Linked DNA regions of Homo sapiens: region 1 is linked to region 2. Evidence: fine-mapped expression QTL. Tissue or cell type: whole blood. Region 2 holds a variant in brackets; the other region holds the start of a gene. Each region is shown on its reference strand, or each on the opposite one. Region 1 holds the start of KLRF1 (killer cell lectin like receptor F1). Region 2 has its middle 7.3 kb from the start of KLF2.

Evidence for each region. PIP is the estimated chance that this variant, and not a neighbour inherited with it, causes the effect. A credible set is the group of variants that fine-mapping cannot tell apart.
Region 1: it holds the start of KLRF1, and the variant in region 2 is the best candidate, but not a certain one, in a credible set for the expression of KLRF1 in whole blood (TOPMed, PIP 0.67).

What each region holds. Positions count from the first base shown.
Region 1 is chr12:9,825,124-9,829,520 of GRCh38, forward strand. It overlaps KLRF1 (killer cell lectin like receptor F1), which reads left to right and starts at 2,358. Exons shown (of 6, transcript NM_016523.3): 1 at 2,358-2,506. The coding sequence starts at 2,422.
Region 2 is chr19:16,329,907-16,334,303 of GRCh38, forward strand. No RefSeq gene overlaps it. Among named protein-coding and RNA genes, the nearest start is that of KLF2, 7.3 kb to the left of the region's middle. RefSeq lists a silencer at 635-684 and an enhancer at 1,035-1,144. The variant C/T (reference allele first, on the strand shown) is at 2,065.

The sequences.
Region 1 (4,397 bases), not on the chromosome of region 2:
AAATTCATCTGGAACAGAAAAATTAGCCCAAATAGCCAAGGCAATCCTAAGCAAAAAGAACAACACTGGAGGCATCACATTGCCCAACTTCAAATTATACTACAGTACTACAATATCCAAAATAACAAGGTACTGGTAAAAAAAAAAAAAAAAGCAGACACATAGACCATTGGAACACAATGGTCTAATGCAGACACATAGACCACTGGACAGAAAGCCCAGAAATAGTGCTGCACAACTACACCCATCTGATCTTCAGCAAAGCTGACAAAAACAAGCCATGGGAAAAGGATTCCCTTTTTAATAAATGGTGCTGAGATAACTGGCTAGCCACATGCTGAAGATTGAAAGTGGACCCCTTCCTTATACCATATACAAAGCTCAACTCAAGATGGATAAAATACTTATGTCTAAAACCCCAAAATATAAAAAACCCTGGAAGATAACCTAGGAATTACCATCCTGGACACAGGAATGGGCAAATATTTCATGACAAAGATGCCAAAAGCAATTGCAACAAAAGTGAAACAAAACAAAACAAACAAACAAAATAATTAACTGTAAGAGCTTCTGCACAGCAAGAGAAACTATCAACAGAGTGAACAGATAATCTACAGAATGGGAGAAAATTTTTGCAGACTATGCATTTGACAAAGGTCTAATATCCAGCATCTGTAAGAAACTTAAACCAATCAACAAGCAAAAAATAAACAACCCCATTAAAAAGTGGACTAAGGACATGAACAGATACTTTTCGTGTTTTATTTATCAATCTTAATTTACTTCTTATCCATTTGGAGTGTCAAATAATGGCCAAAGAAATTGTAATTATAAATTAAAGAACAAAATTTAGCAAGTAAAAATAAACAAAAATAACACAAAAATGTATTATCCTTTTACTTTTGTCATTAAGCAACAAATATATTTCTGATAATTTGTCAAATATTTTCTCCTTGAATTAATAGTTTATCTTATTTAAAAGGGTATATTGTGTTTTTAAAATTTTATTTTAAATTTGGGAGTACATGTGCAAATTTGTTACATAGGTAAACTTGTGTAATGGGGGTTTGCTGTAAAGATTATTTCTTCACCCAGGTATTAACCCTAGTACCCATTAGTTATTTTTCCTGATCCTTTCCCTCTTCCCACCCTCTATCCTCCAGTAGGCACTAATCATTAGGGAAATGCAAATTAAAACCACAGTAAGATACCATCTCATACCAGTCGAATGGCTATTATTAAAAAGTCAAAAAATAACAGATGCTGATGAGGTAGTGGAGAAAAGGGTTCACTTATACACCTTTGATGGGAGTGTAAATTAGTTCAACCATTATGAAAGATAGCATGGTGATTCCTTAAAGACCTAAAACCAGAAATTTGACCCAGCAATCCCATTACTGGTATATACCCAAAGGAATATAAATCTATCATAAAGACACATGCATGCATCTGTTCATGGCAGCACTGTTGACAATAGCAAAGACATGCAATCAACCTAAATGCCCATCAATGGTAGACTGGATAAAGAAAATGTGATACACATATACAAAGGAATACTATGCAGCTATAAAAAAGAATGAGATGATGTCCATTGCAGGAACATAGATGAAGCTAGAGGCCGTTACCCTTAACAAACTAATGGAGGAACAGAAAACCAAATACCACATGTTCTCACTAATAATTGGGATCTAAATGATGAGAACACATGTACACATAGAGGAGAATGACAGACACCGGAGCCTACTTGAAGGTGGAGGGTGAGAGGAGGGGCAGGATCAGAAAAACATAACTATGTAGTACTAGTCTGAATACCTGGGTGATGAAATAATATGTACAACAAACCCCTGTGACATGATTTTACCTATATAACAAACCTACACATGTAGCCCTGAACCTAAAAGTTAAAAAAAATCAAATTATACTGTTAAATTATTAGCATGATTTATAAACAATATTGTTTTAGGATAAAGAATTTAATTGCTTGGCAATTGCAAATTATTAAATTAAATATCAATATGTTAGGGAGGCTAATTCAAATGATATAAATATTTAGGCTATAACAAAAGGCAGCTATATATTATTAACCTCACCTCAAAAAGGGGCATAATTTCCATTCCCTTGACTTTAAGGGTAAATTAAGAGAAATTTGTAAAGCACTCAAAAGAATATTCAATTCAATATGTGGTGGACAGTTGAGAAATTATGTGTTATCTATGTCATGGGAAAGCAACTTTTAAAAAGAAAACATTTCCTCTGAGGTTTTCACAAATAAGTGAAACTGTGAACCCTCATATGTACTGTGAAAGGACAATTTGAGGAGCATCTCTGATTAGCAGCAGATTTATTATTCTTTCCTCATTTCATGTTATACTTAATAAAACAAAACATACCTGTATACACACACATTCACTCACATTGAAGATGCAAGATGAAGAAAGATACATGACATTGAATGTACAGTCAAAGAAAAGGAGTTCTGCCCAAACATCTCAACTTACATTTAAAGGTATGGAATTTAATTTCATTTTTTCAATTGGTGTGAATTAACATGGTAGTTTCCCGTATCCTGTTCCATTGTGTTATTGGACTGTTTCAGTATTTGGGTGCTTTTCTTTCTCCGTCTCTGTATCTCTCTCACCTGTCCTCTCTTTCAATATTAATAATGATTTAAAAATAACAACCTCTCTTACCATTTAAGAAACACCAGTTTCCGGCACTATACAGAATGTTTTATCTATGTTCCTTCATTTAATCTTACAAATTTACTATGAGATAATCTCTCTCTCTCCCATTTATCAATGTGGAACTAACACTTACTTGTAATATTTTGTCTGATATAATTTCTTAAGGACATTCTCTGAGGAAATATGCATACTCAATTAAAATTAATAATTTCAAATTAGTGAATATTTGCTGCCATTCACCTCCTTATCATTCATAGAATATGGTGTTTTAATGCTATTTTTTTTTTTTGAGACGGAGTTTCACTGTTGTTGCCCAGGCTGGAGTGCAATGGCATGATCTCGGCTCACTGCAACCTCTGCCTCCCAGGTTCAAGCAATTCTCCTGCCTCAGCCTCCTGAGTAGCTGAGATTATAGGTGCCCGCCACCATGCCTGGCTAATTTTTTGCGTTTTTAGTAGAGATGGGGTTTTACCATGTTGGCCAGGCTGGTCTTGAACTCCTGACCTCAGGTGATCCACCCACCTGAGTCTTCCAAAGTGTTGGGATTATAGGCATGAGCCACCGCGCCCAGCCTTTAATACTAATTTTTAATTCAACTTCTCAAAAACTTTATGCTTTTCACCAAGTTGACTCAAAATAAAGTTTATACACCAGCAATCAACATTTTAATTTGCTACTTCAAGCATACCCTCCATACACAATGCAATTCCATCATGCCACCTTAATGTGATTTGGCAAAAGAGATAAGCAGAAATTAAAGACACAAATAATCACAGTTATAGAGACTGTCTGTTCTGTTCTGTTGCTTTCTAAATATTTCTCTTTTAATAACTTCACCCATGAAAATTTTACTTATCTCTTGAGTCCTTCCACAAGTATCATCCATCAGTGATTCATCTTAGAGTTACATACGTGCTATGTATAAGAAATTTATTGCCTCTTCCATGTGAATTTTTAGATTCCCATATTTTCAAGTCTTTACTTCCTACACTCAATTTTTATTTCATTTTTGGAAATTAGAGATATTAAACCTGAAAGACTACAACATGTAGTGACTTCTCTGCAGACTTTTTTCCACACTCTGTTCATAAATGTCTCTCTGAAGCAAAAATGTGCAGATTTTCGGCTCCCAGATATTTAAGTGACACATACTAATATTTATGTCTTGTACCTTTAGCTAATATTTATTAAAGCTTGAGGTAAGACGTATTTTATGTGAATTAGATTGACAATGTGAGCCTTGGGGTTATGATGTTCATTCATTTAACTTAATTTTGTGATGACATATTTGTAAATCTTTTCTCATATATTGAAAAACCTTTGTTGCCAGTGATAGTAAGAAATTACATAATTGCTCTATCCCACTATACATATGTAGTAGTTTCAGAATCACTATAGAAATAATATTATAATAATAGTTACTTAAAACAGATTAAAATGTTTTGCGGTTTTAAAAAATCCTTAAGATATATTCCATTGAGCATGCACAGTTAAATGTTTTAAAATCACTTTAAGTAATTCCTCTCTCTATAGTGAAGACACTAACAATACCTAGTTAGATTCCTTTTCTTCATTTTTTATGGATTTTTTTTCATTTTTGTTTAACTTACTTTATAGTAGCATAAAACATTTACATATTTTCAGTCAAACTTATATAATGAGGGGCCAAGTGTGGTGGCTCATGCCATTAATCCCAGCACTTTGGAAGGCCGA
Region 2 (4,397 bases):
CACTGGCTGAATTACTTTTCATGGCTGTGATTTTCGCTATATTCTTTCTTTTCCCCAGGCAAAGTTATAATCATTTGTCGATGCTGTTTTTTCCCCCAGTTATACATTTGTATTGTCATTTTCATGGCTGCATAATATTCCTTTTAGATATGGCAGGAGTTATTTATGGAAACAAGCACTGTGGGTAAAAGGGTTGAAAAGGGTGAAGGTTTTATTTTGTTTGGTTTGAGATAGGGTCTCATCTGTCACCCAGGCTGGAGTGCAGTGGCACAATCACTACAATCTTGACCTCCTGGGTTCAAGCAATCCTCCTGCCTCAGCCTCCCGAGTAGCTGGGATTACAGGCATGCATCACCATGCCCAGCTAATTTTTACATTTTTTTGTACAGAGGGGATCTCACTATATTGCCCCTCCTGGGCTCAAGCAATCCTCCCGCCTCAGCCTCTCAAAATGCTGGGATTAAAGATGCAGACCACCAAGCCCAGCTATGGCAGGGGGTGGGGGAGAGGTGACAGTTTTGAGGGGCTTATTGGCATGGTGCTGGGGAGAGATGTAGGAGCTATTTTTCTGCTAGGCACTTCCTGTAGTTCTGGGGGCCCCAGCACCCAGGCAGGCTGCAGAATGATGTGGTGTGAAGTGGGAGGAGGAAGGGGGCGTTGTCAGAGGGCAAGATGTCTATAGGCTCACCCCTGACTCAGCACCCAGCCCTGTCAACACGGTTGAGTCAGCACCCACGCCCGGCAGCCCCAGGTGGAGTCCCAGGACCATAGGCTCAAGCTGATTTGTCAGGTGCCAGGGCTGGGTGGCTCCGATTGCCCCGGCCTGAGCTGTGTCAGCTGTGCCAGACCAGCGAGCATCAGCCTTGGAGCTGGGCACAGCGGTGGCTCATGCCTGTAATCCCAGCACTTTGGGAGGCCGAGGTGTGGGGATCTCTTGAGCCAAGGAGTTTGAGACCAGCCTGGGCAACATAGAGAGACCCTGTTTCTGGGTGGGTGGGGGGCGGGGGAAGAGAGAGAGAAGAGAGAAAAAACAAAAGACATTTGGAGCTGAATCATTCTCCAGTGCGGGGCCACCCTGTGCACTGCAGTGTTCAACAGCATCTCTGGCCTTCACCGACTCAATGCCAATTAACACCCGTCCCCTGGCCAGACCCGGGGGCTCACACCTGTAATTCCAGCACTTTGGGAGGGCAAGGCGGGTGGATCACTTGAGCTCAGGAGTTCGAGGCCAGCCTGGCCAATATGGTGAAACCCTGTCTCTACTTAAAAAAAAAAAAAATTAGCTGGGTGTGGTGGCAGGCGCCTATAATCTCTGTCATCTCAGCTACTTGGGAGGCTGAGTCAGGAGAATCACTGGAACCTGGGAGGCGGAGGTTGCACTGAGCTGAGATGGCGCCTGGGTGACATAGGGAGAGTCCATCTCAAAAAAAAAAAGAAAGAAACCCTCAGATCAGCCGTGCGACTTTGCCTGCCTGTGCCTCAGTTTCCTTGGGTGGAAAATGAGTTTGCTGCTGTGAAAATGAAATGAGACACTAAAGCTCAGAGCCCACCCCTGGGGTGTGGCCAGCACAGTGAGTGTCCTCTGATAAAGCTGGTGTGCCTGAATTTTAAGGCCCCTTCCTCCCTCTCTCTCCCTCTCCCCACAACCCTCTTCGCTCATTCATTCATTCATTCACCTGTTCATTCAGCAGATGCTCTGTATGGCAAGCAGATATGACTCAGAATCTCAGGAGTGACTCTGGCCGGGCGCAATGGTTCACACCTGTAATCCCAGCACTTTGGGAGGCCGAGGCAGGTGGATCACCTGAGGTCAGGAGTTCGAGACCAGCCTGGCCAACATGGTGAGACCCCGTCTCTACTAAAAACACAAAAATTAGCTGGGTATGGTGGCAGGCGCCTATAATCCCAGCTACTCGGGAAGCTGAGGGACGAGAATTGCTTGAACCCGGGAGGCAGAGGTTTCAGTGAGCTGAGATCACACCACTGCACTCCAGCCTGAGAGACAGAGCGAGACTCTGTCTCAAAAAAAAAAAAAAAAAAAGTGACGTAGCCTCTGGGCCTTGC[C/T]CAGAGTCAGTGCCAAAATGTTTGTCGCATGACCTAACTTTGTGCTAACGGTGGACCCTGTGACTCGAGCTTGGGTGCTTTCATTCTGGGCACCTTCAACAAATTATCTCTTTCAACCTCCCCACAAGCCTGAGGGTTGCCTAAGCACCCCCATTTTCTAGAGGTGGAAAGTGGGGTTCAGAGAGGGGAAGGTTAGCTGGGGGACCTGGTGCAGGTGGCAGAGCTGAGGCTTCAACCCAGGTCTGCCTGGCCTGGCCACCGCAACTCCTCCTGTGCCTAGAAACATCTGAATGCACCAATGCATCAGGTTTGCCCTGTTTCCCTCCACACACAGGTTCTAGGGGTTCCTGGAAGCCCTGCTGAGTTCCTTCTAGGCTTTTGTCTAAAAGGAACTGAGAAGCCCATTTGCCAGGAATATCCCAGACAGGGAGGGACAAGGGGTCGGGAAGAGGCTGGGTGAATAGGGTTCCCTGAGGTGCCCTATAAGAAGTTAGGAGGAGGCCGGGCACAGTGGCTCACGCCTGTAATCCCAGCACTTTGGGAGGTCAAGGCAGGTGGATCATTTGAGGTCAGGAGTTCGAGACCAGCCTGGCCAACATGGTGAAACCTCGTCTCTACTAAAAATACAAAAATTAGCTTGGAGTAGTGGTGGGCACCTGTGATCCCAGCTACTTGGGAGGCTGAGGCAGGAGAATTGCATGAACCCGGGAGGCGGAGGTTGCAGTGAGCCGAGATCACACCATTGCACACTAGCCTGGGCGACAGAGGAAGACTCCATCTCAAAAAAAAAATAATAATAAGTTAAGACGAGCCTGGGGGCCAGACACCATGGCTCACGCATGTAATCCCAGCACTTTGGGAGGCCAAGGCAGGTGGATTACTGGAGGTCAGAAGTTCAAGATCAGCCTGGCCAACATGGTGAAACCCCATCTCTACTAAAAAAAAAAAAAAAATACAGAAATTAGCCGGGCGTGGTGGTGCACACCTGTAATCCCAGGTACTCGGGAGGCTAAGGCAGGAGAATCACCTGAACCCAGGAGGCAGAGGTTACAGTGAGCCGAGATTGCACCACTGCACTCCGGCCTGGGCAACAGAGCAAGACTCTGTTTCAAAAAAAAAAAAAAAATGCTAAACATGGAATTGCCATAGGTCCCAGTGATTCCATTCCTAGGTATAGTCCCAAGAGAAATAAAAACCGGGACACAAACAGATACTTGCACACACGTGTTCGAGGCAGCACCATTTACATGCGCCAGACGGTGGAAACAGCCCAAATACCCATCAACTCATGAATCAATAAAAGTGTGGTATATCCATATGACCCAGTGGTTTTTGTGTTTGTTTTTTGGGATAAGGTCTCGCTCTGTTGCCCAGGCTGGAGTGCAGTGGTGCGATCACAGCTAACTGCAGCCTCGAACCCCTGGGTTCAAGCAATCCTCCTGCATCAGCCTCTCGGGCTGGTTCTTACTGGGGGCTCCCCTGAGTGCAGAGAACAGGCCCAAGCTGATGCCAGTTAGGGAAGTCATCTCTATAGTTCTAGAAGGGATACTGAGCCCAGGAGGCTGGAGACAGGGGCCTCACCAACCCTCTGCTCGTAGCCTGAGCTCTTTCTCCAGCGTGATTTGATCTGCCCCATCACCGTGTTCTTTTCTCTCTCATCCCATATTTTCTTTCTTTCATTCTTTCTCTTTATTGTGATTAAATATACATAACATAAAATTGACTGTTTTTGTTTTGTTTTGTTTGAGACAGGGTCTCACTCTGTTGCCCAGGCTGGAGTGCAGTGGTGCGATCACAGCTCACTGCAGCCTCGACCTCCTCAGGCTCACGTGATCCTCCCGCCTCAGCCTCCAGAGCAGCTGGGACTATAGGAGTGTGCTACTACGCCTGGCTAATTTTTCTATTTTTTGTAGAGCCTGAGTCTCACTGTGTTACCCAGGCTGGTCGCAAACTCCTGGGCTCAAATGAACCATCCACCTTGGCCTCCCAAAATGCTGGGATTACAAGAGTGAGACATTGTGCCTGGCTAAAATTCACTTTTTTTTTTTTTGTGACAGAGTCTTGCTCTGTCACCCAGGCTGGAGTGCAGTGGCACGATCTCGGTTCACTGCAACCTCCCACCTCAAGTGATTCTCCTGCCTCAGCCTCCCGAGTAGCTGGGATTACAGGCGCACGCCAGCACAGCCGGCTAATTTTTATATTTTCAGTAGAGACGGGGTTTCACCATGTTGGCCAATGGTCTCAAACTCCTGACCTCAGGTGATCCGCCCCCCTTGGCCTCCCAAAGTGCTAGGAATACAGGCGTGAGCCACCACACCCAGCACAAAATTGGT